Regions from separate parts of the Homo sapiens genome. Here region 1 is linked to region 2. The links come from fine-mapping of genetic effects on gene expression. A gene starts in region 2. The other region holds a variant in brackets. All regions are shown on one strand. Distances are from middle to middle.

Evidence for each region.
Region 1: its variant is fine-mapped to the expression of STEAP2 in ovary (GTEx, PIP 0.93).

The regions. Positions count from the first base shown.
Region 1 is chr7:90,226,973-90,242,518 of GRCh38, reverse strand. STEAP2 (STEAP2 metalloreductase) reads right to left here. Exons shown (of 6, transcript NM_001244944.2): 4 at 15,021-15,546; 5 at 12,483-12,647; 6 at 4,836-10,182. The coding sequence ends at 9,895. LOC107986819 (a long non-coding RNA gene) reads left to right here. Exons shown (of 2, transcript XR_007060423.1): 2 at 1-4,932. Among named protein-coding and RNA genes, the nearest start is that of CFAP69, 10 kb to the left of the region's middle. RefSeq lists a silencer at 7,754-7,959. The variant A/T (reference allele first, on the strand shown) is at 7,520.
Region 2 is chr7:90,204,255-90,219,800 of GRCh38, reverse strand. STEAP2 (STEAP2 metalloreductase) reads right to left here and starts at 8,061. Exons shown (of 6, transcript NM_001244944.2): 1 at 7,756-8,061; 2 at 3,198-3,310. It overlaps STEAP2-AS1 (STEAP2 antisense RNA 1), which reads left to right and starts at 8,166. Exons shown (of 3, transcript NR_110029.2): 1 at 8,166-8,501; 2 at 9,863-9,950. RefSeq lists a silencer at 7,899-7,958.

The DNA of each region.
Region 1 (15,546 bases), 23 kb before region 2:
CATCCTAGCATCTCAGGATCAGGAAAGATGAAGAGGAGGGAGGGGAAAGGAAAAATTTCCACTTAAAGTAGAGCTTGCCTAGGAGACATCAACTGACTCTTGTATTTTAACAGCACAGGCTGAAGCTGATAAGGGTCTTTAAGCCTCAGTAACCTTAGACAGGCACCTTCCTCACTGGACCTAACTGAAGAGACTTTCCTGACTAGTGAACAATGGGATATTTATTTTATTTAACCAATGGTGTAGAGACCTATATATTCATTCTGCCCCATATCCAGAGTGCCAGTTTCCAATGCTTAATTAGCATAAGCCCCATAAGCTCCCCACTTCTAACATTTAAAAACCCCTGACTTTCCCTCCTCAGTGAAATTCTTCATGGAGTAAGTTCTCTTGCTTGGCAAGTTAATAGACTCAGCTTTGTAATTTTTTTTTTCTAGCTCTAACGGTATTTGTTTTACTCATGGACAGGTGAGAAGGACAAGGGTAGAGGAGTCTTCAAACACCCCACAGCCAGCCATCTTGGGTGAATTACTGCAGTTTTCGAAAGGTGCCAGCAGGTTTCCTCCCGCATAACATTTGCATTATGTTGTACATGCCACCGTCTTCAGATGGCTAATCCCTATGAAATTCAGTTAACATGACATTTTCTAGGAAACCTTTACATCCTTTGCTGTGTTGGGTGCAACCTTGTCTGTCATTCCGTTTTTGTACTCATCACATACTTAATGGTATCAACTGGTTCAGCAATTGGACCCCTTCCTACTGTACTGAGATTCTTGAGAGTCACTTTGATATGCACCCCAGACCCTCAGCATACTGTCTAGAGCAGTAGTTTTCAAAACCTAATGTGTATCAGAATCGTCTGGAGAAATAGTTAAAACAGAATCTCAAGCCCTACCTGCAGAGTCTCTGCTTCAGTAAGTCTGGGTGAGGCCCAAGGATATGTGCTTTTAACCAGTTCCCAAACAATGTTGATGCTATTGGTCTGGAGAACATACTTTGGGACTTCCTGGTCCATATCATACTAGTCACTCAAAAAATGTTCATTAAAAGATTTCAAGGATTATAAATTACTTTTTATTTTGATTTGAAGCCAAATTAAAGCATTTTGTAAGTTATCCAAAGTAAGGTAAATACTCCAGGTCCTTGCTACTCAAAATGGGGTCCTTGGGCTACTTGCACTGGCATTACTAGGGACTCTGTTAGGAATGGAGACTCTCTTGCCGCCTGGTGGACCTACTGACTCAGAATCTCCATTCTGAGATTCTGATCTCTCAAGATCCTCAGCCTCACATCAAAATTTGAGAAGCACTGCTCATGTGTGTGAGTGTGTGTGTGTGTGTGTGTATGTTTATGTGTGTTGTCATTATTATTGCTTTGGAGTAGTTTTAACAGCATCCATAAAACTGGTTTTCACTAATTATTCCATTCGTGGATTTTCCAAGTCCTTTGTTCCCAAATAATAGTGGGTTTACTTTTCTTCTTGGTAAGTGCACAAAGATTAAGCTTCATAAAAGCTTTAACTTTATATTTGGTATGTTGACTTAATTTTAATCATTATTTAGTGATTCTTCTGTTATGACACAAAAACACAGAAGGGTGAAAGGGTGAAATGACTACTGAAGGAGTAAATTATTTCAGCAAAAAGATAAATAGCAGAGAAACATGGGAAATGAGTTATACCTACAGAATAGAAATGCTTGAATGTGGTAACAATTCTACAGAATTTAATATCTCTGTTAAGTTACAAATTGCAATTTCTTAGTAGCACCTGTAGACTTAAAGATTAACTAGTAGTTTTAATAATATATTGACTTACAAGTTTTACTTTTAAAAGTAACAAAGAAAGCTAAAAATGTTTTAAAATAAATATATTGCAAATTGTGGTTCTATTTTCCTTCTGACTTTTTCTTGTTTGTACTCTGCCTAATTAGCAATGTTTAGTAAAATTATAATTATTTCTAATCATATGAATAATTATATATTCTTGAATTAAGAATATGTCTAATAAGTATTTGAGACTATATATGAATTTTATAGTCTCTAATGCCAGATGTTCTAAATGTGCAAGCAAATGTTATTCCTTTCTGAATTAGAGTAATTTATTTTAAATAAAGAATGTTTATAGCACATATGAAATCTAGTCATAGTTTTTAGTAGGTTAGCTTTAGGGAAATTCTGTAAGAGAAGAAATGCATACAAAACCAGAATTTATTATACTTAATTTTTTTTTTTTTTGAGACAGGGTCTCACTCTGTCACCCAGGCTGGGGTGCAGTGGCGTGATCTCTGCTCACTGCAGCCCTGACCTCCCTGGGCTCAGGTGATCCTCCCACCTCCCACCTTAGCCTCACGAGCAGCTGGAACTACAAGTGTGTGCCACCGTGTCTGGCTAATTTTTGTTGTTTTTTGTAGAGATGGGGTTTCACCATATTGCCCAGGTTGGTCTTGAACTCCTGGGTTCAAACGATCTGCCCACTTTGGCCTCCCAAAGTGCTAGGATCACAGGCGTGAGCCACCGCTCCCAGCCTATACTTCACTGTTTTAAAAAACTTTTTCAGGTTGACAGCACAGAAACAAAGCCTAAAAACAAAACAAAAGTAATTACCTCTTTCCAACAGAATCATTAATGTACATTTGGGAAGAATAAGCACGTGGAACAGAAAACGAAAGTAAAAGAATAGTCACCCCTGAAGACAACCATTCTAATGAAAAGTATACTAACAATAACCCAAACTGCAAGTGATTTTTAAGTAGGAAGCTGCAGGAACTACTCGTGTTTAGTGGAAAAGTAAACAAATTGAAAGTAAAAAAAATTAAAAGAAGAATTTATAAAGCGCTTTTACCCAAAGCTTCAGTTCCATGACATGGGAATAATTATATGAAAAAAAAATGTTCCCGAGATTTTAGAACAACTATTTATTGTGTTTAAATGGTGGGTAGTTATAGTGCAATAACCCCAGGATAGAACTGTCTTTGTTGTGGAGCAAGATTAATCAGACAGGTTTGTTCCAATGACATTAATTATTTGAGTTCTATATCTAAATTGACTTGTTTTGATTCTATGAACCTTGTATTAGTTTTTGAAGACTGCTGTAACAAATACCACAGACTGGGTGGCTTTAACAACAGAAATTTATTTTGTTACAGTTCTGGAGGCTAGAAGTTGAAGACTAAGGTGTTGGCAGGATTGGTTTCATCTCGAGGCATCTCTCCTTGGCATGCCGTCTTCTCCCTTTTACTTCACGTGGTCTTCCCTCTGTGCATGCCTGATTCCTAATCTCCTCTTCTTATGAGGACACCAGTCATACTGGATTAGGGCCCAACTGTATGACCTCACTTTACCTCTTTAAAGATCCTATCTCCAAATACATTCTGAGGTAGTGTGGGAGTTAGGATTTCAATGTATCAATTTTGAGGAAACACAGTTCAGCCCATAACAGATCCCAGTATCTTTTGAATTATAACTTCAATTCTTATAAACAGCAGATTCAAGAATAAAGTATGTTTAATCAAGGCACAAATGGTATTCTCGCCTACAGGACACTGATATTTCACACAGTAGTGCTGAGTTACTATTTTGATTTAACAGTGTATGACTGTACATTTGATCAATGTGAATCTGCCCCTGAGGGGTTTTTCTACTCTCAGGGGTCTCAACAAATCTGGATTTTGAGTCTGCAGGGTCCCGTGCCTGACTTTCTCAAAGTCATCATTTGTCTCTTGTTTCACTTCCCATTAGAAGAATCCACTACCAAAAGTACTGTACTAGTCTAGGTTCCCCAAGCCTGCCATAAACAAACAACACCAACACTCACCTGCTGCCACTCTATGGGGAGTACTATCTCTGAGAAACAGAAGTGAGGAAAAACATGGAAGTGAGGCAGTAGGAGAAGGGAACACAAACACAGGTGTTAGTGAGCTTGTCATAGCTTTGCAACAAGTGCAGTTAATTGCTCGGTCTTTGAGGATATTTTCATGAAGGTCTTATGAATTATTGCACTTTAGAACAGCCTATCTGGGGGAAAGGAAGGGAGAATTTATCTACTAGCTTCATTTTGTGCTGTACCTCCTTGATCAAAGTTCACTCCTTAAGTAGGGTTGCCAGATTTAGAAAAATTTTAAAAAGCCCATGCTTATAATAAAAAGTAATTTATTGTTTGTCTGCAATTCAAATTTAACTGAGAGTCCTGTATTTTACCTGACAATCCTCCTCTCAGGATATTAGCACCTAAGCATTTCCAGGCAGCAGCTGGGGAAGCCAGAACCTCCACAGACAGATCTGGTGCACAGGCACAAAGGTCAGTTACTCCTTGTCAGTGGCACAGTGTACAGGACTCCTCAACATATAGCAGTGTGGTGGTGGTGGTAGTGGCAGCAGCAGCAGAAACTCTTTAGGACAACAGGGTAGCGCTAGGCCACTGGCCAGGAGGCAAGGCATGAGGAAGAGGCAAGAGGATGTAGGCATGGCTGCATGGATGCGGGATGATAAAAAACATAATTTTCTGTAAAAATGGGTAATTATTTATTATAATATCTCTTTAGTATCCATCATAGATCACATTATACTAGATACTGGGGATTTAGTAGTAAATAAGACAAAATTTCTGCTACGGGGAGTTTACAGAATAGCTTGAATATTGTGTGTGTTCTGATTTAAAGATGCTTAATGAATGCTAGTAAAATGAAATAATGTAATAAAATAAATGTAAATGGAGGTTTTTCTAAATGACTATTTTAGTAAAAACAAACAAAACCCCTCCATAACTATCACATGTATTGCTTTCTGGATGCTTCTGAAAAGAAATAACTCAGAAAAGTATTAGAAGGCCTCCATCAAATACTAGAATTATTATTTAATGAGAAAAAAATCCACGTGTATACAACATTTCAAAACAGAAGTTAAATCATTAAATAGTACTTTTTATTTAAATGTTTATAAGGCAGATCTATGAGAATGATAGAAAACATGGTGTGTAATTTGATAGCAATATTTTGGAGATTACAGAGTTTTAGTAATTACCAATTACACAGTTAAAAAGAAGATAATATATTCCAAGCAGATACAAAATATCTAATGAAAGATCAAGGCAGGAAAATGAGTATAACTAATTGACAATGGAAAATCAATTTTAATGTGAATTGCACATTATCCTTTAAAAGCTTTCAAAAGAAAGAATTATTGCAGTCTAGTTAATTCAGACAGTGTTAAATGGTATCAGGATAAAGAACTGAAGGGCAGAAAGAATTAATTTTCACTTCATGTAACACACCCAGATTTACAATGGCTTAAATGCAGGAAAAAGCAGTGGAAGTAGGGAAGTAGTCAAGGTCTTTCTGGTCTCTAATCTGCCTTACTCTTTGGGTGTGGCTTTGATCCTCTGGAGACAGCTGCCAGGGCTCCTGTTATATCCACAATCCCAGCAGCAAGATGAAGGGATGAAAAAGGACACATGCTGCCTTCCTTTGAGGAGACTTCATCTCACTGGCCAACACTCAGTCACATGTACACCTAACTGCAAGGACAGCTGAGGAATGTAATGGGCAGCCGCTTTTAAAGAAGTAGAGTCAATAGGAAGACAAATTCCAGTTCCAGCTCAGTCTGGGTATCTGCAAAGCTGCAAAAGATCTTTAAAGACAATTTCAAGAGAATATTTCCTTAAAGTTGGCAATTTGGAGATCATACAAAAGCATCTGCTTTTGTGATTTAATTTAGCTCATCTGGCCACTGGAAGAATCCAAACAGTCTGCCTTAATTTTGGATGAATGCATGATGGAAATTCAATAATTTAGAAAGTTAAAAAAAACTCAGTATGTTAGGCTGAACAAAACATTTTTTAGTAACATATGGAAAGAATCTCTGAAAATTAAGCACTGTATAATTTTCTCATACTAAAAAAAAAGTGAAGAACCCATTCATTCATGTAAAATTCACTGTTTAAAGGTAAAAACAGATTGAGTTTCCACTGAAATTATTACAGTTTCATTTAGGGCTAATCATTTGTCCTGAATGTACATCAGAATTTGTTTTACCCACTGATGAACAATTGAAGGTAGGGTGTCTCATTTCACAATATAAATCTTAACACTGTGAGGTGTGTTATACTATGTATGTATCTTGTTTTAAGTCATGGATTTACAAAATAATTTCAACACATTTTAGGCTGTTTACGTATTTCAAAACAGGGATTTCATAGACTGACACAGGAATAATTAGTTCAGTGTTCACAGTATTCCTAAATAAATATTTACTTATTACATTTATGATACTTTATTTAAAATACCACATTAGAAACTTTAAATATTTCATAAATAAATCTCTTTTTTGGGGGGAAACTGTACAGAATTTATTATGAAATAGCTTAATGGCAAGTGGTAATTTAGAAGAATTAAGTTATCAGATAGGAGATATATTAAAATATTTAAAAATTGGATATATTCTTGAAGCCCTTTTACACAAGTAATTTCTATAATTTGATTGTAATGAAAGTATAATATACCTTGTTACTATTATCAGATTAATTTTTGAAAGTAGAATTCCTTAATCAAGCCAAGGTTATGCTGCTTTATAAGAAATTAATCAGGTAGTTTAACACTAGAGCTCATTAGCCAACCTGTATGTAGCACAAAATAATCATCTCTGATAAATACCTATAAATATATTTTATTCATACTTTTAAATATTTTACAATTCAAATAAAAACCTTATATGTAGACAATCTGGGCTAAATTTCCATGTATGTTTTGAAAAATAATGTTAGCATGAATAGATTCATATTTAAATATGATTTTAAATACTCTTAATAGAGGAGACATAAGAAATATTTACATAAAAGCTAAGTAGCATGATACAGCTCATGGTTATTTTCCTCATAGGAAAACAATTACTTGATTTTTTTTTTTGCATAGGATTAAGACTGAGTATCTTTTCTACATTCTTTTAACTTTCTAAGGGGCACTTCTCAAAACACAGACCAGGTAGCAAATCTCCACTGCTCTAAGGTTCTCACCACCACTTTCTCACACCTAGCAATAGTAGAATTCAGTCCTACTTCTGAGGCCAGAAGAATGGTTCAGAAAAATAATGATTATAAAAAATAACAATTAAGAAAAATAATCACATAGAGGTAAAATAAAGCAACTAAACATCATAGTTTTGCATTTTTAGAAAAGCATTTAAACATTTAGAATTATAGTAAATATATTACATTTATTCTAAAACTTCAAAATTATTCTGTTTTTGTAGTACTGAAAAGAAGATAGTGCCATTTGAAACAACAGATGCATCTTTTATACATTTTCACAAGTTTGTTTTTCATATTTTTAAAGGCCCCATTTATCTGTAACAGTGGTATTTTTATTTAGAGTATCGGCTACTTAATATATACATGCAACAATATATGCTTTAATAGTCATTTAACTTTTAGGAATATTTCATCACATTAAGTGGTTAAGCATAGTGTTAAAAGAGTGGAATTTAAGGAATAAGAAAATATTGAAAATACGCTGTTATTTTCATT[A/T]GTTCACTATAATAGAATGTTTTTGCCCATAAAAGTTATCATTGCCCAACTGAATTCCTACCAAGAACTAACAAGTGATTCTCAAGTGGGGAGAAATATTATTAAAATAAAGAAAATAGAGGGCTCAGTTAGAAAGTACAAGATAATAGGCCGGGCGCGGTAGCTCACACCTGTAATCCCAGCACTTTGGAGGCCAAGGCGGGCGGATCACGAGGTCAGGAGATCGAGACCATCCTGGCTAACACGGTGAAACTCCGTCTCTACTAAAAATACAAAAAGAAATCAGCCGGGCATGGTGGCGGGCACCTGTAGTCCCAGCTACTCGGGAGGCTGAGGCAGGAGAATGGCGTGAACCCGGGAGGCAGAGCTTGCAGTGAGCCGAGATCGTGCCACTGCACTCCAGCCTGGGTGACAGAGCAAGACTCTGTCTTTAAAAAAAAAAAAAAAAAAAAAGAGGGTACAAGATAATAAAATTCACCAAGAGAACATTAGAAAATCATAAGTGAATTACCAAACTGACAAGGCAGTTGTAGAAAAAGAGTCACTGGTGGGAAAGGTAGCCTCTACTAAATAAAAGTCTTTTTATTGTTGGCAGTTGGATTCAGTAGTACCTACGTGGGTAAGTTTAGAAATGTTATAATTTCAGGAAGAGGAACGCATATAATTGTATCTTGCCTATAATTTTCTATTTTAATAAGGAAATAGCAAATTGGGGTGGGGGGAATGTAGGGCATTCTACAGTTTGAGCAAAATGCAATTAAATGTGGAAGGACAGCACTGAAAAATTTTATGAATAATCTGTATGATTATATGTCTCTAGAGTAGATTTATAATTAGCCACTTACCCTAATATCCTTCATGCTTGTAAAGTACTCCCTAATGAATGGTTATGCAGGCAGGAGAACTTCTCAGGAAGAGAAAAGGAGAAGACTAACTCTACAGAGATTTTTGAAAGACTCCGTGGGATCTCAGCAATTTGTTAACACTGCTAGGGCCCTTCACTGCATAGGGAGGCATATGGACTGCCATGGGTCTCCAGGCTCATGTTCCAAGCAAGAATAGGGTAAGTAACTGTGAATTACCCTACAAGCAGTAATAAGTTTATTATAATAATATTTTTATACATTTTTGGATGCACCCAACCCACTCTAAAGAATGTCAGTGACTTTATACAAAAGAGGAAGCATCTAGATTGGCATTGTGAACATAATGCATAGGGGCGCGGCGGGAGCTCTAGAGCCTAGTGGTTAAAACCGTGGCCTCTGGAATATGACTACCTGGACTTGAATGCTCACTCTGCCATTTATTAACTGCAAGACCTTTGAAAAATAACTTTTCTATCCTTCGGTCCCTCATGTGTAAAATGAGGATAATAACTACTTATCTCACGGGGTTGTTCTAAGTATTAAATGGGATAATACAAGTAAAGTACTTAGAACCATGCCTAGCACATCAGAATCCCTCAAAGAACATCAGTATAATCCTATACCATAGCAAGTGGTGACTGGTTAAGGTGCGACAAAGGTCAGCTGGCAGATTACTTGTGTGCAAACTTGATACTTTTGTTCTAAGTAGGAACTAGTATACAGTTCCTAGGATTGGTACCGTATTAGAGATAGCAGTTTTGGAAGCCAAATGTTACTGAATCCTCTTCCTGATCAGTATATTAATATGAAAATGAAACTGCTCTGTAACACAATAAAGAATAAAATCTTTCATGAGGTATGTATTATCAGTATGTATTTCATGTCTCAAATATATTTTAAATATAATTTCAGGTTTAATTTGTCTTTTTAATTTGTGTCTCTTCATATAATCACATTGCTTCATACAATTAATTTCATCCTTCAAATCCTATTTTATGAGAGAAATATAGGAATGCTATCATGCAGCCTTACCTAGATGCTAACATAACGTGTCCTTTCTTAAAAAAATGTATAATAATGCATTTCTACTTTTTAAGTTGAATAATTAAAATCTTAATCTTCAGAAAAAAATGTATATCCATTGAATTATTTTAAAAGCTTAAAATTCTGCTGGTTTGCAAATTGTTTTTAACATTATATCTATATTATTAACTGTAAGTATTTTTGCCTGATTATGAAATATAAAGTAACAACAGGGTTACAGTTGTGCAAAACAAAACAAAACATACCTAAATTACAATAATATGTTGACTAGAAAAATTCATATTGGCAAACATGACATTTGTGAAAATTAACTTGAAGAAAACTCTATCACTAAGTCAGTTGAAATCTCATTTAACAAGTTTCAACCCACGATAATTTGACAGCATACTTGTAACTGAACGTAGAAGTCATAAAAATAATGGCATGAGTAGAACTTTATATGGCAGCTGTGAACACCATTTGTCATCACATTACTGTGACCCTCTCCGGGGAGACATGAGGAATTGTTCCTCCCATACCTTCTTCCAGAAATTGGCTCTTTTCCCAGCCTTTTTTAATTCGTTTTAGCTTTCGGCTTATACATGGAAGGAATAAAATAATCTTACCCAGAATTACAATTGAGGGCAAAACAAGAGCAAGAACAAAGTTTGGTGGTGTATAAAATCTGTAGTACTCTTCCTCAAAAGCTCGTTTCCATCCATAAATTAAAACATGGAAAGTACTTATGAGCAGAGCGACATATCCAAGTGTAGACTTGGGCCAGGAGAGGAAGGAAAAGAAACAAAGAATAAGAAACAAATGACTGAAACTCATAAATTAAACTATCAAGATACACCATGTTTATATTTTGATAAAACTATTTTGTCTTAAATTATCAAGTTAACCTTTGTCCTCTACTGAATTAAATAATATTAATATTTTTATATATGCATATATATGTATTATTTATATGCACACCTTATGTTACACAAATAAGGCCCTACTGCATACAGTTTAATATTCTTACTACTTCATTTATTTTATCAAGAACATTTTCCTCATGTCATTAAATATGAAAATGACATTAATACTGTATAATATTCTATTGAATGGATGTGCATAATTTATTAAACCATTCCTTTTTGTTGATAATTCACTGTTTCCAACTTTCCTCAACTATAAATGTCATGTTAGGCCATTTTCCATATTTTGATTTATTTTCTTAGGACTGGTTTCTAATAGTAGGATTATTGGTCAAAACATCTAGCTTTTCCTTAAGGGTACTGATACATACTGCTAGACTCTTCTTTATAAAAATTATTCACATTCCCACCAGTTGTGTATTAAAGAAATGTGTATGTATGTGTGTGTGTATACACATACACATAAATATAGTCATGTGCCACATAAGGGCATTTTGGTCAACTATGGACTGCATATACAACGGTGGTCCCATAAGATTATATGCCTTATTTTTACTGTACCTTTTCTCTGTTTAGATATGTTTAGATACACAAATATTTACCATTGTGTTACAAGTGCCTGTAATATTCAGTACAGTAACATGCTGTACAGGTTTGTAGCCTGGGAGCAATAGGTCATGGTTTGTATAAATATGCTCTATGATGTTCACATGATAAAACTGCCTAACGACTCATTGCTCAGAACGTTCCCTACTGTTAGGTAACACATCACTGTTAATACATAAACAGACATATGATAAAATTAAATAAACTAATTTAAAATTATTAAAATTAATTAAATTAAATTAAAATTAAATGAGCATCCTCATGGGCACACACACATATATACACACTGGTTAATAGGCAAATATGAAAAATCCTGCAGTATTAATATAAACAACAATTAAAATATAGAGTTTATTAAGAATACTTCAGTTAGGCACTTTACAGTTTAAATTCTAAAAGCTCATCATTCTTTAGTTCGCTAAATTATTATGTTTAAGAGTGCTTACTTTGAAGAATAGTCTGTTATATAAAAGTAATATTACATCAGTATAGTGATGTAATGTCTAACTTTACTGGAAAATATCAACCCTCCAGCAGGCAAAATATTTGCAATTACTCATCTAAATTTATAATGATAATTTGCATCTGTCTAGAACCTTCTATTTCTTTTCGGGTATGATTAAACTAGCTGTTGGGAAAGTACTCTCCCTTTTCTTCAAAAAGGAAAAATAAATTCAGATAAGCATTTTGGCCCTGCTTTGAATGAGATTTTTACAGGACCTTAAAAAAAAAAACAAGCAAATAAGCAATGAATTGAAACAAAACTTAAGTGTACCACCAAAGGACATGAATCTGTCTACTATGCTGTAAACCATTTGGATACAACCAGTACAGATTTTGTGAAAATATAGGAAGGGTCTATGTTTCAGTTATATATTTTTAAAATATGCAACCTTATTATTTAGATATTATTGGAGAAGGTGAATGTTTAACTTATTAAAGAATACAATGGTGGTTTGAAATCCCTTTACAGACATCCATACGTATTAGTATACTACTGATATACTAACAAAATTCTTAAGGCTGGTTGCATGTTATAATCCATTACTCTAGTTACCTAGTTTGCCACTGCTTGTGTTTGTATGTGTGTGTATATATACACACATTTCTTTAAAATATTCAGATTGACATCCCCACTTGAGTTCAAATTAATAAGATTTTTCTGGACAAATCAAGATGACTCAAAACATAAAATAATTTTTCATTCACTTGGCTAATAATAAATTGACTTTCAACATTAAATTTGATCTAAGCTCATCCTTCCCAACTTTCATTTTTTTTTTCTCTTTTAAGATAACTTTTTTGTTCTTAACATAGTATACTGGAAGGCAGTGCTGTCAAAGTCTTCCAGTACAATCATATACTGACTGGTCTTTCACTTATTTAACCAGAGCAATCCTAAGCTGGCTTCCAGCATAATGTATCTAGATGCATAAATACAGCCTCAAAGGCACCCTTTTAATAAGGAACATATTTAAAATGCAGTTGTTCTTAACAAGGAAATCCTATCCTGCACAATCCTTCACCAAACAAAACCCCACATACCTGAATAAAACTGAATTCTCTCCAGTTTAAAGCATTGCTCACTGAAGGGATAGAAGTGACTGCCAGGAGGGAAAGTAAGCCAAGGCTCATTATGCCAAAGGAGATATACATTTCAATTCTCCAAACTTCTTCCTCATTCCAAGAGTTTTCAATATTTGCATGAACCTAACAAGAAAGCGAATGTGAATTTCCTTTATTTAGTAGAACATTAACTGATTCAGCACAGAGTTCACTCTTGGCATAAGAAGAACCTGGTCATATATGGACGTATTTAAGTTGTACTAATTTAGTCTAACAAACCATTACAGAGAACCTGTTACTGGATGATACTGCTCCAGGTGTAAGGGAAAAGAGAATTAAACAAAAGGAGGACAAAACTTTCTCTTTCCTTGTATACGTGCTAGAATAGAGGGGCAAAGCTTTGCCATCATCATTACAGGGACTCTGGAATCCAACACCATAAAATACCTAGTAGTTGGTTCTAGGGTGACACAAAAGAAGTTACTGACAGTTAAACTTAGTTTTGAAGTACTATTACAAGCTGGTTTAAACTTGGTTGAATATCTGGGATATAGTCTGGCCTTAGTTCAACTTGGATCCGGTCAGGGAATTTCTAAACTATGTCAGTATCTTCTTCCATCACATGAATAATATATCTCTGTTTTATCTTTCTTCTCATCTTCTCTTCCTAGAAAGCTGTGATTTCCCTAGCTATAAAGGCCAATGGAGCTCATTTATCCACTTGAACTGCCTCATTTAATATGATCCCCAACTATCCAATTGTGTCATTTATATGCAGTATTTTTTCCAAATGTCTTTTCCTTACATTGATAATGTGTATATAATCAAGTCAGACGGTGAACTCTGAATTTGTGGTATTTTGTGTAGGGACTACCTTTAGAAGTTCTATTTACATTCAGAATATAATTAGAGTATAAATCAAGTATTGGACTCCTTCAGCTGAAATTTTTGATTTAAATAAGTATCTATTAATGGAAAACAGATTCTAACTTAACAACAGTTTAACTTTGTCCAATTCCAGTTAACAAAACATACTTGAAATTTAACAACGAAAAGCTGCTTCTTAGCTATTAGTTCCCTAAGGCAATCATACCATCATCTTGAAAGAGGCCACAGAGTTCTTACCATCTTCTTATTTGATATCTATACAATACAGAAAAACAGCACTACCCAGTGTACTCGGAGACTACAACCTGGATCTACCTGCTCTCCCAGTTCATTCATTCATCCACAAATGGGCTGTTTGAGTGTCCACAATGTCTAGGCTCAAATCTAGGCACTGGGTATGCATCAGTGAAAAAGATAGACAAAGATCCCTCTTCTCATGAACTTACTTTCTGTTGGGGGAAGGCAGACACTGGTAAATGTATTTTTAACATGGAAATCAAGTGTGTTAGAAGATGGTAAGTGTTATTAAAAAAAGAAAGGTAGAGCAGGGTAAGTCAGAAGGATTGGGAATACTGGTTGGGGCAGAGGCAGCGGCATTTAAGATGGTATCCAGCATAGGACTCGCTGAGAAGGTGAGATCTGGGCAAATGACTGGAAGGAGGCAAGGGAGCTGACTGAGCAACAATAAAAGCCTTAGTATCCCATTAAGAGAAGTTTTTTTTCAGGGAGTGAATGGTTTAAAGGTTATCAATCTACTAATTAGAAAAATATTATTTTAGGTTTTATTGTTGAAACAAGCTTAAGTACTAGATGCCACATACTTGGACTATGATGCCTTCGATCCTTACAAAATGCAGATGCTTTTACACATTTGTTTTGGTGCAATGTTCTTGGCTTTCATGGAGAAATGCTACACCAAACAGCTTCAGGGAAACCCCTTAAATTACATTTGTGGATTGGGAATTATGGAGGAAAACCATAGTCTACCTCATAATCAAACCCCTTCCATGAAGTGCTCCCTGAGATTTTTTTTTTTAGAGCTAAGTGCTAGAAAAGCTTCACCTGTGGAACTATTATCTTTTCTGGTTTTTGATAACAAGAGCTTTGTAAATAATAGGGTCTCCCTTCTCATTGTATTGAAAATCTCAAAGCCAAAAGAGAAGCTGTGGAGACACTCTTAGCAGAGGTGTATTCGACTTTTTTCTCCTGATCTTGTCTTCCTGTTCTGTTTTGTATTTTTACTGGTTCTAATTTTATTGTATATATTTACTGAGAATTGCCTCATCATTTTGTGGAGCACAGCCAATTATAAAACATTAAAATAATGAATTGTTGAATACTGAAAGCACTCATTGCAATTATAACATTGAAAAAGGGGGAGAACCCAACCCTCTATTTTTCTGCTTTTATTCTGTATGGAAAAGGATGGTAGCAGCCTTTACTTAAATAATTTTGAATTAGCCACCTAATTATTTTGCAAAAACATTGTTTAAAGAACAATTCTTTCCCCTCCCGCAGTATACCAAAATCAAATTTCCATTACAGGGCATGTAAAATTTTATGTTTTACAATTTATACTAATAAAAAGTATTTTACTAGCATCAGATAAATAACAAGCACATTCAGTACCTGCTGATAAGCCATGTTGAGAAACAAATATCTCTCTGACCTTCTCATCGGTAAGCAGAGGCTGTAGGCAACATGGACCATAGCGAAGAAAAAACTTAGTAATCCAAGCTGTTTTCTACACTGTAACCAGGTTTCCAACCAAGGTGGAAATCTCCTATACTTGGTGCCGTAATAAAGTTGATAAGCAGCTGCCAGAAGACCTGCGAGGTATACTAGGGAGAGCAAAGTAATGGCAACTATAGGTAAGGTTTTATTCACAATCTCTATAGGAATTTTGTAAAAGTCACTCTGTTGGTTTCTAGCATATGGATGAATCACATCTCTGACAAAGGAATAAAGGAAAAAAAATGTGGCCAAGCTTATAGCTACCACCACTGGCCCTCTCCAGAGAGTAAAGAGTCGTAGGGGTAAATTTTCAATCTCTCTGGCTGATGATAAGGATCCCAAGTCAATGGGAATGAAATTCAACTGGCGGGCAAGTTCAATAACCTGTTGTCGCGCTTGAATATTGTTGCTGCATATATAA
Region 2 (15,546 bases):
ATTTATGATTGCATAACCGCACTCCCTCCTGGGCAACAGAGCAAGACCCTGTCTCCTAAAAATTGTGTGTGTGCGCGCGTGTGTGTCTGTAGAAGCAAACCAAATCTAACAACTCATAAAAAAAACACACACACATCATGATCAAAGGGGATTTATTCCAGGAATGCATCCCAGGGATACAAGGATGGTTCAACATATGCAAATCAACAACTGTGATACATCACCTGAAGAGAATGAAGGACAATAACCATATGATCATCTCAATAGATGCAGAAAAAACATTTGAGAAAATTTAGCATCCCCTCATGATAAAACTTGCAACAAACTAGGGATAGAAAAAATATGCTTCACATAATAAGGGCTTATATGATCTATATAATAATAATATAGCTATCATTATTTTGAAATGGGGAAAAGCTCAAAGCCTTTCCTCTATGAACAGAAACAAGACAAGGATGCCACTTTCACCACTTCTATTCAACATCATATTGGAAGTCCTAGCCAGAGCAACCAGGAAAGAGAAAGAATAAAAGGTACCCAAACTGGAAAAGAGGAAGGTCAAATTATCCCTCTTTGCTGATGATATGATCTTAGATCTAGATAAACCTAAAGATTTCACACAAAAACTCTTAGATCTGATAAATAAATTCAATAAAGTTGCAGGATACAAAATCGACATACAAAAATCAGTACCATTTCTATACACCAACAATGAACTTGCTGAAAAAGACACCAAGAAGGCAATCCCATTTACAATAGCTATAAAAAAAACAAAAACAAACAAAAAACAACTAGGAATATATTTAACCAAGGAGGTGAAAGTTTGCTACAAGGAAAACTACAAAGCACTGTAGAAAAAAATTAAAGATGACATAAACGAATGGAAAAACATTCCATGCTTATGGATTGGAAGAATTAATATTAAAATGACCATACTGCCCAAAGCAATACACAGATTCAATGCAATCCCTATCAAAATACCAATGTGATTTTTCATAGAATTAGAAAAGACAATCCTAAAATTCATATAGAACCAAAAAATATCCTGAATAGCTACAGCAATCCTAAGCAAAAAGAACAAAGCTGAAGGCATCACACTACCTGACTTCAAAATATATTACAAGGCAATAGTAACCGAAAAAACATGGTACCGGTATAAAAACAAATGCACAGATCAATGAATGCAACAGATTAGATAATCCACAAAAAAAATCCACACATTTACAGCCAACTGATTGTCAACAAAGGCACCAAGAACATACACTGAGGAAAGGATATCCTCTTCAAATATATGGTACTTAGACAATTGGATATCTGTATGCAGAAGAATAAAACTGGACCCCTGTCCCTCACCATATACAAAAATCAACGCAAGGTCAACTAAAGACTTAAACATAAGACCCAAAACCCCTCATTTCAAGAAGAAAACATTGGGGAAATATTTGAAGACATTGGTCTAGGCAAAGATTTTATGGCTAGGACCTCAAAAGCACAGCAACAACAACAAAAAAATAGACAAATGGGACTATATTAAACTAAAAGACTTCCGTGCAGCAAAGGAAACAATCAACAGAATGAAGAGACCACCTATTGAATAGAAGAAAATATTTGCAAACTATTAATCTGATAAGGGACTAATATTCAGAATATACAAGGAACTCAAACAACTGACAATAAAAAACACATAATCCCATAAAAATGGGTAAAGGTCATGAATAGACATTTTTCCAAAGAAGACAAACAAATGGTTAATAGGTATATGAAAAAATGCTAAGCATCACTAATCACCAGAGAAATGCATATCAAAACCACAATGAGATTTCAACTTATCCCAATTAGAACTGCTATTATTAAAAGAGAAAAATGACAGATGCTGACAACGATTCAGAGAAAAGGGAATCCTTATATGTTATTGGTGGAAATGTAAATTAGTACAGCCTCTGTGGACAACAGTATAGGGGTTGTTTCTCAAAAGACTAAAAATGGAACTACCATACAATCCAGTAATCTCACTACCGGGTATTATCTACAGGAAAAGAAATTAGTATATCAAAGAGATACCCGTCCTCACATGTTTTTTTTTTTTTTTTTTTTTTGCGCACTATTCACACTAGCAAGGATATGGAATCAATCTACATGTCCATCAACAAATGGATAAAGAAAATGTGGTATGTATACACAATGAAATATTATTCAGCCTTAAAAAATGAAATCGTGTCATTTGCAGCAACATGGATAGGAGTGGAGGCCATTATGTTAAGTGAAATAACCCAGGCACAGAAAGGCAAATATCACATGTTTTTACTCATGTGTGGGAGCTAAAAAAGTGGATCCCATGGAGGTAGAGAATAGCATGAGAGATATCAGAGGCTGGAAGGATGTGTTGATGGGAGGAGGGGAGGAAGAGATGTTGGTTCATGGATACAAATGTACAGTTAGAAGAAGTAAGTTCTAATGTTCAATAGCAAAGTAGGTTGCCTATAGTCAGTAACAATGTACTGTGTATTTCAAAGTAGCTAGAAGAGATGACTTGAAATGTTCTTAACACATAGATATGATAAATACTCAAGGTGATGGATTCCCCAAAAACTCCAACCAGATCATTACACATTCTATGGATATAACAAATACTCATGTGTACCCCATAGATATGTAACATGTATCAATTTGTTTTAAAAGTTAGTCTAAGCAGGCTTCTTCAAGAAATAAATCCTACTTCCCTCAATGTTCTGAAAACTGGCCAGTGAGGGTGACCTGAATATTGCTGACCTGGCTTGGCACTACGCTTATGGTAGTGAGGGAAAGTCCCACTGTTTTGGCACATGGAGTAGCAGAACTGCAATCTCAGAGCTGCTTCTGAATGAGCTACTAAAGCAGTATTTCTCAACCCTAGGTGCATTCTCCAATGACCTGGCAAGTTTTAAAACACAGTGATGACGGGTCACCCCCCTACCACCCAGTTTTCACTTAATTGTTCTGGGGTTCATCCTGAGCAACAGCATTTTTTAAAAAAGATTAGCAGATGTTTTATTATGCAACCAAGATTGAAAATCACTCTAGTAAAAGATTCAGAATTCAATCTAATACTTTCATCATTTGGCGATAGTAGATGTGGCTTTCTGACCCTCACTTATGTTAATTTTTACGTTGTTGTTTGTAGTAATGAAAAATTACACTTGCGAAAGAGTAGTAGTTACCTTTGAATATAGGACGCTGAATAATATGCATGCAGTTCTTTCCCCTTTTCCACGCAAGGAGGAGCAGTATCAGAAGGTCCACTCACAATTTTCCAATTTCCTCTCTTCACTTTCTGGGAAAGGCAATGCCATTCCTTAAAATGCGTCACTCCTTGCACAACATACTTTGTTCCTGTTGTTTCATAATATTCAAAATTCGGAATATTTCCATGACTGTATCTCTTCTTTCTGTTCTACAAGGGGATCCCCTCCCCAGTTCTCCAGGCATCATGATCCTGCTGACCTGAGCAGACCACTGTTTCCAAGGGAATGACTCACTAGAAAGGCACTTGTCAAACTTTAATGCAAATATGATCACCTGGGGACCTCTTTAAAATGCACACTCAGATTCTTTAGGTCTAGAGGGAGGTTAGACATTCTGCATTTTTTCACAAGCTCCCAGGTGATGTCCACAGTGTCTATACCTTTTCTTTTGAAGTTATTCATAAGGAATCCAAATTAAATAACTGATAAAACTATGTCATTTATAGGCTGGGCATGGTGGCTCACGTCTGTAATCTCAGCACTTTGGGAGGCCGAAGCAGGTGGATCACTTGAGGTCAGGAGTTCAAGATCAGACTGGCCAACATGATTAAACCCCATCTTTACTAAAAAGGCACAAAAATTAGGCAGGGGTGGTGGCAGGTGCCTGTAATCCCAGCTACTTGGGAGGCTGAGGAAGGAGAATCGCTTGAACCAGGGAGCCAAGATCGCGCCACTGGACTCCAGCCTGGGCAACAGAGTGAGACTCAGCCTCAAAACAAAAACAAAAACAAACAAAAACAAAAAACAACTATGTCATTTATAGAAAGTTTTGTCTTCATAGTGTAGGGGTGAAAGAGCAGGCCTAAGCTTCTGCAATCACTTTGATTCTCTGAGTCTCAATTTCCTTTGTTAAACAGCAAACAAATAGGTTATACTTGACTCTGGTGGTAGTTTCCAACACTAAATAAGTCTTGAAGCTGTGTAATAATGGTAATATCACCACCCTATATTTAACACTTCAACTTCGGGAGCTCAATCTAAAAGTCTGTGTCAATGACATCGTTTTCTTGAATGGGCATTTGACTTGCTGTACACATTTAATACTTGAGAATGTATTATTTTGATAGGGAATTCAGTTACATTCAGCTGGACAGCCTCTTAAGGTTTTCAGTTTAGAAGGATTTCCTGAACATTCCTGAAGCTGAATGGCACCTGTTGTGCTATGTTACTTTTGAAAAATAGAACCTAATTTGTTTCACACATAAATAGGGCATTTATTATTGGATGACAGCAACTCTGAAAGGGCTGTCCACAGAGGTTTTGATGACATTTCACAACCTGCAGATTTGGAGAGGCTATCAAGAAAACATAATTCTCCAGGGCCATGAGGTGGGGTGGTGTAATCTTCACTTTGTAAGCCCACATCTGAACATCTCTTCTTCATTGTCTCTCCTGCAAACACCCAGCTCCTTTGAAGCTCATGGTACTTCACCATACCCTCTCCCTGTCCTTACTGCTGTCCTCACTGCTGTCCTCTACTGACTTCTAGTTTATTCCTTATGACTGCAGACTCTGGCTCCCAGTATATACATGGTCATCCTCTCTACCCTAATAGCTATCATGTTTTTCCTGGACTTTATCATTCAAGTGGATGAACCATTCAACTTCAGGGGCTCTTATTTCCTTGACTTACTCATTGGAGACAATGAATTTTTGCCTCTACCCCACCTCAGTCACTCACTGCCTGAAATCTCCAAGCACTGTCTCCAGGACTTCCAATAATCTTAGTTTAAATATTCACACTGATAATTCTAAACAGCAAAAGAAATCTGATCCGTTGACCTCTACCTCTCTAATTGCTTAATATCCTGCACTCTCCTTCAGCCTGCTCTGGTTTCTCTTTAAACCGAGGCTAGATTTGTAGTCACTCCCTTAAAAAGATCCTCAGCTCTCTTACTCTCCATCATATCTGCTTGGCAAAACTCTAGTCCTGGACCCAGCTATCCATTTTCTCTGTATCTGTATCCACGTTGGTGAAGGTTGCTGGAGAAAAACCAGAAAACTGAGCTCATTAGTTTCACCTTAAATTAACAATCACCAATTTTACCTATCAAAGACCAGTCTATCCACTTATGTCCTGGAGAGCCTCCCTTTTTGCTTCCCAAGGGGATATGGTTATGACCTCTTTCTGTGACATCTCAAACTTCACAGGTTCAAACCTGAACTTTTTCCACCCAGAGCTGGTCCCATTCGCCTGGAAATGTGTAAATGCCACCATTATCCACCAGTTGCTCCAATCAGAAAATTGGGAGTCATTCTTAAGTCCTTGCTGACCCTCACTTTTGACATAAAATCCTGCACCAATTCCTGTTCTCCAACATATTTCATAAATCCCTCTCCACCAATACCAGGCTAGTCCAGGTGTCTATCATCTCACCTGAACTCTGCAAACATTTCCTAATGGGTCAGCCTACTTTCTCTTTTGACCCTTTCCAAACATCTCCACAGCAGCTAAAATCATCTTAAAATGTAAATCGTCATAAAATGTCTCTCCTTAAAATCGGTGCTCCTTGTACTTAGAACTACAGCCATCTTCCTGACTATCACGTAAAAGGTCCTGAATGAGTTAGTCCCCGCTTCCCCTCTCTAACCTTATCTGTATATTGTCCACCCACAGCATTCTCTTCTAGAAAGAGAAAACAACAACCACTTTATGTACCTTGGGAGCTTTCCATATACTGTTCCATCTCTATAGCAGAATAATTCACTCAGCCCTTGTTAAATTTATTTTGTAATATTTTATATAATTGTTTCTTTACTGTTTACTATTTCCCCCATTGGACAATAAACTGCACGAGGGAAGAACCATGTTTGTCTTGTCCGTGATCACTGCCTCCACATTGGCTGGCAGTGTAACTAAGGATGCAATAAAAATTCTTTGTTATGGAATACATCAAAAAAATTCAGGACAAAAAGACATGTAATAATTCTCTAGATCAGATTTCTCTTTTTGCTGAAAACACATGTGGGCCCTTAAGGGGTAGGTGATTTATCAATGTTATTGTTATGTTAATGTCTCAGTTACCTCAATGTCCTGGTTTCTGGCCCAGCAGGGATAAATACATCTCCTGATGTCCTATGTCCTTTATCACGCCTGCAGTCTTACTCTTTCACATTTTTGGTGTATCTTCTTTCTCACTTTTCTAACTCATTTACAATCCTTTCTTTAAAAATTTGTCTTCACCTGTCCTGTTTTTTCAGTACTAAAATACAACTATGTTCATTCACCACATTTTCCATAGCACCAGTACAATAAAAAGTGACTTGGATAAAGCTTTTCATTTCCTTACTGCACAATTTGCTCAAGTTGTCATTCTCAATATTGTCTCATTTCCCCATACCCTGACAGAGTGACTAGCTAAGAGGCAGAGAGTGCAGCCATCCCAATGGCAGCACACATAGTTACTCTTTATGTTTCTAAACATCCTGCAAATTATTTAGGACGGGTGTTTTGTTTTGTTTTGTTTTGCTTTTCCATTAAATAGCCTCTAAGCTTTGAAGCAACCAAGAGAGAATCGGAGTAAAAAAATTATAGGGTTAAAGAAAGAAAAAATAAACAGATCAATAAAATGAAGAAATAATAAAGTGGAGAAAAGGAAGGATGGGGAGGTGGTTTAGAAAACAAAAAGGGTTCCAAGCAGCGGGGCTGTTAAAAGGACCAGAATCTAAGTCAGGAGGTTGGGGGTGGGGGTGGGGGTGGGGCAGGAGTCTGAATTCTTTTTCTCCTATACTGATGAGCGATAATTAACTATGGCCTGGACTGTCTTTCCATCTAAAAAACTAACTGCCCGAGGAGTAAAAACTGACACCAATCCTTCTCCACGGGGTGGGAGAGATAATAAATGGAAATCTTCCAACAAAAATGCTCTTTATCTCTCTGCTCTATTTTAAGAGCAAGATTTTTAGGGCATAATTTTCAACAAGTTTTGGCTGAGGCTGAACACAGGGTTCAAAGATAATTTAGGACAGTCAAAGAAGAGGCCAATTACTTTCTAACAGAAATGGCCTAAACACCACGATTACATTACTGGGAAATAAACCAAATGACTGCTAGAAATACCTGTTCGCAAAGCAGCACTGCATGATCTTCCATGAAATGCCCTGCATCAACCCAAAGTAGCAGGGAGACTATCAAGGGGGCGAAAGTAACCTGCCTGTCCTTTCCTGCTGGGACACATCCTACCTGGGACAATGTCTCCTTGCCTTCTTTCTCCTGGGCCCAACCTCAGGACTTGCCCTTAGCTCTAGGAACCAAGAGGAGGAGGAGGGGGAATCAGTGGAACAGACACCCTTCTCCACCCTTCTCACTTTCCACCTTAAGGTGCCAGGAGATGAGGGACCCCGCAGCTCAGGGCGGACGCCCGGTGAGGGCGCAGAATCGGGGAGGATGGATGCAGCGCGTGGCGCAGACTGCATCTTGACCCTCAACTCCGCCGCCGCTACCTTCTTTCGCGCTCCTCCCCGACCCGCTCACCTCCGCGCCCCCCGCGCCCTCCACGCCGGGCAGGGGCGAGCCTTGCAGCTCCCCGGGAGCGGCGCCGACTCCCCAAGGGCCCACCCGGGGGCCAGGGCCTACGGACTGCACCTCCGACTGGCGGTTGCAGGGTGGCTGCCGCGGCGGTCGCACTCCAGCTGCTTCCCCGCCTACCCAAGCTGGATCGCGAACAGCCAGGGGAGAAGGAAGGAGGGAGGCGCGCGGAGGCCGGCTTGGCAGCGACGCGCCGCTAGGGGCTGCGTGCCCGGACAGCTCGTGGCGCCGAGGGCCCGAGGAACGCTGACTGGAGTCGGGAAGAGCCGTGGAGCGCGGGGAGGAGTCGGGGAGCTCGGAGGGGGCGGGGGTGTGTGAAGGGAGCCGGGCTGTGTGGAGGGAGCTGGGAAGGGCCCAGAGCACCGAGGGGGAGCCAGCAGTGAGTGCACTGGGGAGCTCCACACACGCGGCTCCGCAGCTTTGCGCGCCCTTCTACCGCGAGCGGCTGAGTATCCGCCTGGCTCCCCTGCGGGGTTCCTCCGTGGTCTTCCGGAGATTCTTTCTGAAGCAGCTTTAGAATAGTCAAGCCTATTTTTCTACTCCATTTCTTTTTGTAATGTGGGGTCACCTTTCCGCTCTAGAAATTGCTTTTCTTACGCGATTCCCACCCCAACTCTCGCCAAGGGCCCTGGTTCTCATCTCCCCAGTCTTAGCTTCTGACAAGCCTCCAAGAAACTGCGCTTTTTTCTTTTGTAAGTGTTCTTTTGCCTCATGTTTACCCTATCCCAAACGTCTTTTGACTAGACTGTGTCCTTGGAATAAAATGTTCGGAAATGCCCTTTCATGAAAACTCCCTCGGATAGGAGGACCCTCACAGACCCTGGACTGCAGAGATTATTCTGTTGACTTTGACCTTCACTCTAGCTGGTGCCGCGCGAGCTTTGGTGTGGGGGAAAGGAAGGTTAGGCCGTGAGTCAGGAGACCTGTGTTCCTGCGAAAGCCATTTACCTTCTGGGGCCGCAATGGCTTTGAATGTTTCAGGGGATCCCCTGAGAGCACCTTTGGCTCTGGGTTTCTGTAAATTTTCTCCCTGCGGATTACCAAGTAAAAGTACCTTTTATCTTTTGTGTAGAAGGTGTCAGTAGAAGAAGCAAGAGATCTTTATTCCCAAATATAAAATCAACTTACCAAAAATTCTCAAATTTGGGGAAATTTTTTTCATACATTAGTAAAGTACCATTTCAACAAATTAAGTTTAAAAATTATCCCTCTAGGTGGTTTATTAACCAGACCAAAAAAACCCAACAACAACAACAACGAGAGGGGGGTCTTAGATCGATCACTGGGGCACTGCACTTTCCCCTTTGTAGTCCATACACAGATTAACCTTTGTAAATGCTGCTTTGGAAATACATCCTTTGTTTGACTTGAAATGTAACCCCTCCCCTACCGCCAAATATTATTAAGGTTTAAAGTTTAGGCAGAAGCTAAGGTTTTAACGATGTGTCAGGGTGTGGAACCATCGACAGCTGGTAGAATACTTTCCATTTTGGTTACTGGAAACAAGTCATTAAATCTAATATCAATTTTAATAATTTCACTTCAACAAAACTGTCAAATAATGAGATTCGTGGAGTTTTTTCTAGTAGTTCCTCTGGAGAACTTGTGGAGAAAATTCATGAATCTTAGCAGTTAACGGAAAGTATATTGCTTTTCCATATATTTTAAAAAACTATAGAATTATATAACTTCCCCACGGGGATATTAAAAGAAATTGCACTTTCTAACTTCTATAACCATAAATTATCATGTAAAACATGTAGGTAAGCCATATATTTTAAATATGTTTAAAAGCTCTCTTAACATGGGCTTTGACTATTGAGAAAATAGATAAAGTAATGTGAAATCCCTTTTCCTAAATGAGAATCAGTGAGTCAACAATTTGCAGCTTCCAAAAGGGATATCTCTTTTTCATGCTTGAACTATTAAAATAAACAAATATCTTTGATGGGAAATCTAATGTTACCAAATGTGTTCCAGAAGACTGTTGGTGTTAATGCAAAGCATGATTCCTTTAACTTCCATGGTAACTAATTTTATCATTGTTTTTCAGCTGGAGATGCAGAGTATGAAAATGATTTTGCAAGACTTTTCCAGGTCATGAGGTGCTCTCTGAGAAATCTCTTCTGTTCCCTAAAGTAGTAAGTGACTCAACTGAAGCGAAGCAATAATTATTAAATGGATCTCTAGTGGCCTAGGGGCATTAACACATTTTTTTCCTTTGAAGTTATTATACAATTAAATAACTTTAGAGTGGTAGTTCCCAAAATGTGTGACTTTAGGCACTAGTTTGCCTAAATGCTGCTCTAGCAAGTCATTCACTTCAAAAATATTGAGCCACTTCTATATGCCCTGGCTGGCACTCTAGGAACAGTGGTGAAGAAGACAGATATATTTACCTGTCCTGATAGAAGTTACAGTTTGGTGAAAACGATAAATTAGTAACAAGTGCAAATAAGATTTATGCAGATTTATTTACACAAAATAAATGTAAGTCGTGATGTAAATAGTAGATTTTGAGATAAACAATAAGAGAAATCTCTTCATTTTAGAGATCCACAATGTATGTTAATAAATTAAAGGCTCTGAAAATTCCTATGGTAAAAACATTTTACCTAACCTATTCCCCAAACCCCCAAATTTGTTTTGAACAAATTTGTTTGTAAGCAGTGCTTATAATAAAATAGAATAATTTTTGTGAAATGCTGCTTTGTTTTAAAACCAAAGAATTCAATAAACATGAAATTCTGTTAACATCACCTTACATTTATTTGTCAATGTACATTAATATACATCAATAGATTTATACATGTAAATATAATCTGAAGTAGACTGTGTTTGCACATGTTTATACCAGCGCAATTCACAATTGCAAAAAATATGGAACCAGCCTAAATGTCCATCAACCAACGAGTGGATAAAGAAAATATAGTATATATATACCACAGAATACTACTCAGCCATAAAAAGGAACAAAATAATGGCATTCTCAGCAACCTGGATGGAATTAGAGATGATTATTCTAAGTGAAATAACTCAGAGTGGAAAACCAAACATATGTTCTCATTCATAAGCTGGAGCTAAGCTATGAGGACACAAAGGCATCAGAATGATATAGTGGAGTCTGGGGGCTCCAGGGGGAAGTGGGGTGAGGGGTAAAATACTACGTATTGAGTACAGTGTACACTGCTCTGGTGATGGGTACACCAAAATCTCAGAAATTACTGCAAAAGAATTTGTTCATGTCACAAAAAGCCACCTGTTCCTCAGAAACTATTGAAATAAAAAATAAATTGTTTAAGTATGATTAAAAAAAGAAATACGCTGTGTTTGAACACAAAATGATACACAAGGATTTATAAATCTATTAAAATGCTTGAATGTACATCTGTACAAAACACATATTTATAATTAACATTATTTCATAAACATATTTCCAGAGATCAACATGTTCTAAAGTCTTATAATTCTTAATGGCTATATAGTTTATATATTGGTATAGACTAGTTTTTCCTTCCTTCCTTCCTTCCTTCCTTCCTTCCTTCCTTCCTTCCTTCCTTCCTTCCTTCCTTCCTTCCCTCCCTCCCTCCCTCCCTCCCTCCCTCCCTCCCTCCCTTCCTTCCTTCCTTCCTTCCTTCCTTTCTCTTTTTTTTCAGGGTCTGAATCTGTAATCCAGGCTAGAGTGCAGTGGCATGGTCAAGGCTCACTGCAGCCTCAACCTCCTGAGCTCAAGTGAGTCTCCTGCCTCAGCCTCCCAGAAGCTGGACTACAGGCAGGCACACGCCACCACACCCAGCTAATTATTTATTACTTGTAGAGAGGGGATCTCCCTAGGTTGCCCAGGCTGGTCTTAAATGCCTAGGCTCAAGTGATCTTCCCACATCACCCATCCCTCTCACAGTGTGCTGGGATTACATGTGTGAGCCACTGTGTTTGGCCTAGAATAGTTTTCTTAACCCTAAATTTTAGGAAAGTACATTTTCTGATTCTTTAACTATTATAAGTAACACTGCTTTAACCTCCTTGAACAAATTACTCTTTGGAGTAATAAGTGATGGGAATATTTTCTTGGGATATATTTTTTAATGTGGGTTTTTTAATTAAAAGAAATTTTATTTTTTCTGTTTACATAGTCTCATATTTCTTTCCATAACAATTGAAAAATCATTATAAAAATATGGATGTACTTTTATCTTTTAGATTCAGTATCTCATTGACACTGAATTTTATTATTTGTATTTGTTTAAGTTGATTAAGGAAGCTTTAAAATGTGTGTAATTTCAGTATACCCATAGGAAATAGCAAAAATACCTGGAGGAATTTGACTGGATAGCTTTGGTCATAAATCCATAAAGGGCCTCAAAGCTATTTCCCTCCCAATGTACCTCTCTGCGAATTCTTCTAAACTAATTTTGTGGTAATTTTAAAAAATTATCTGAAATTAAAAGAATTCTCAGAAAAGTTCTATAAGCATTGGCTCTAGATCTGCAGTTGGTATAGACCAGCAAAATTGACTGACGACCAATGTTAGAAAGAGGAACCAAAATTTGAATAGGGGCTCAGTGTAAGGACAGCTGTGTTTGGGGGATTCCTGTAGGAAGGGAAAACTTTTCAAGCATTTAAAAGGAATATATCATGGAAGAGTATCAGCAAGGGCTTTGGATTTCTTCATAGCTTTGAAGTAAGCAAGAAAAAATGGAGACAGTCAATCTGACCCATGTGCTTTCAGCATTTGATGACCTGGGCTGAATTCATGGATATTGCCAGCTATGGATTTTAAAATTAGAGTTTTTCTGATGATAATCAGATTCTACTTAAATATAAAAATATAATCATACCCTAGTGTCACAACATGTCTTCATATTCATTTTTAAATCTTCAAACACTGGTCAAGCCCATTCCCTCACTCAAAGAGCACTCAGTTCCTTCTGTCTATTGCTAAGGATTTAGTCTATGCATAGAACAGTGTTTACATTGTAGGTATTCTTGAGGATATTAGAGCTCTCTAGCAAACATTTAAAATGTATATTTTCAAATAAACAAATTATAAAACATTATAATCTTAACCATTTCATCAAATTTGATTCTGGATCTCATGGATGACCACCTTATAACTGAGTACAACCACGCAATTTCAGAGTCCCTGTTTTTTGCATTTATCATTGCATTGGTGTTGTATTAACCTGTCAGATCTTAATGAGAGAACTCTTGCAGCTGAATAAAAAGAGAAATAACCCAATTACAAAATGGCCAAAGAATCTGAATACACATTTCTTCAAAGAAGATATGCATGGCTAATAAGCAAACAAAAAACTGCTCAACATCCTTAATCCTTAGATAAATGCAAATCAAAACCACCTGAGATACCACTCACACCTACTGAGATGGCTATAATCAGAAAGTCAGTATCACAATATCAAGTCTTGGTGAGAAAGTAGAGAAATTGGCATCCTCATACATTGCTGGTGGGAAAGTAAAATGTGCAACTATTCTGGAAAACAGTTGGGCAATTTCACTCCTAGTTACATACCCAAGAGAACTGAAAACATTTTTACACAAAAACTTGCACTCAAATATTATCACAGCATTATCATAGTAGCCCAAAGGTAGAAACAACTCAAATGTCCATTAATTGATTAAAATGTACATGAAATGTATATGATCCCATCCACAAAATGAAACATTATTCAGGTATAAAAAGGGATTCAATACTGGCATGGATTACAACATAAACCTTGAAAAATTATGCTAAGTGAAAGGTGCCAGACCCAAAGATCCACATATTTTATAATTCCGTTTATATTAAATATTCAGAATAGGAAAATCATTACAGAAAATAGTTTGATAATTGCCAACCTACTGGCTGGTGGGGAAGAGTGTGGGGCATTGCTATAAAGGAATGCCTAGGCTGGGTAATTTATGAAGAGTTTTTGACTCAGTTCTACAGGCTATACAAGAAGCATGGCCATGGCACCAGCATTTGCTTCTGGTGAGGGCTTCAGGAAGCTTCTATTCATGGCAGAAGACGAAGGGGAGCAGGTTTCCCATGGCAAGAAAAGGAAAGAGAGGAGGGAGGTGCCAGGCTCTTTTTAACAACCAGTTCTCATGGGATTACTCCAGTAAGAATGGCACCAAGCCATTCATGAGGGGTCCGCCCCTCCATGACCAAAACACCTCCTACTAGGCCTCACCTCCAACACTGGGGATCAAATTTTAACATGAGATTTTGAAGGCACGAATATCTAAACTATATTAACTGCTTAGTGAGTGTGGGATTTCTTTTTGGTATGATGAAAATATTCTGGAATTAGTGATGATGGCTGCACAAGTTTGTGAATACGCTAAAAGCCACTGAACTGTACTCTTCAAAGGCATAAATTGTATAGTATGTGAATTAAATCCCAATAATAAAGAAAAATAGTAATCAGGAATTGTCTTAAGAAAAAACTTGAGAGAACAGATGTAGACTTAATTTGTAACAAGCCATTCCCTTAAAATGAAGACCAAATGACATTAATTTGTGCTGTGCCAATATATATTTAGCAGTTGACAGAAGAGAAAAACAAGTGGTGGGAGAAATTAGTCACTATCCCGCTCATTTTAATTTATGTATGTTAAAGCCAGAAGATCTACAGTTAAAGTCAATACCATATTCACATTACAAGGAACAATTTAACTTCTGTAAAACGGTATCATTCTTCACATTCGCTTGTCTGTTAACTTTTCTGTGAAATCCAGCTCTGCCATTTATCAGTTTTGGGACATTGGACAAGTTGTTTAACTTCTTCCAGTCTTGGTTGCCTCATCTATTAAATGGCGATAATAATCATGTCCAACTCATTGGGTTGTGAATATTAAATAAGTTGATAGATGTAAAGTGCCTAGTACTTATTATGTACTATACATGTTAGATATAATTTAACAATTTTGCAATTTGTTTTGGTTTTATAGTTGTGTGTAAACTGTAATCATAAGAAATTTATAATTCATTTTATATTTGAACATATTTATGCAAGTTTTAATTTAAAAATTTTTTTATTATACTTTTAAGTTTTAGGGTACATGTGCACAATGTGCAGGTTAGTTACCTATGTATACATGTGACATGCTGGTGCACTGCACCCACTAACTCGTCATCTAGCGTTAGGTATATCTCCCAGTGCTATCCCTCCCCCCTCCCCCCACCCCACAACAGTCCCCAGAGTGTGATGTTCCCCCTCCTGTGTCCATGTGTTCCCATTGTTCAATTCCCACATATGAGTGAGAATATGTGGTGTTTGGTTTTTTGTTCTTGCAATAGTTTACTGAGAATGATGATTTCCAATTTCATCCATGTCCCTACAAAGGACATGAACTCATCATTTTTTATGGCTGCATAGTATTCCATGGTGTATATGTGCCACATTTTCTTAATCCAGTCTATCATTGTTGGACATTTGGGTTGGTTCCAAGTCTTTGCTATTGTGAATAGTGCCTTAATAAACATACGTGTGCATGTGTCTTTATAGCAGCATGATTCATAGTCCTTTGGGTATATACCCAGTAATGGGATGGCTGGGTCAAATGGTATTTCTAGTTCTAGATCCCTGAGGAATCGCCACACTGACTTCCACAATGGTTGAACTAGTTTACAGTCCCACCAACAGTGTAAAAGTGTTCCTATTTCTCCACATCCTCTCCAGCACCTGTTGTTGCCTAACTTTTTAATGATGGCCATTCTAACTAGTGTGAGATGGT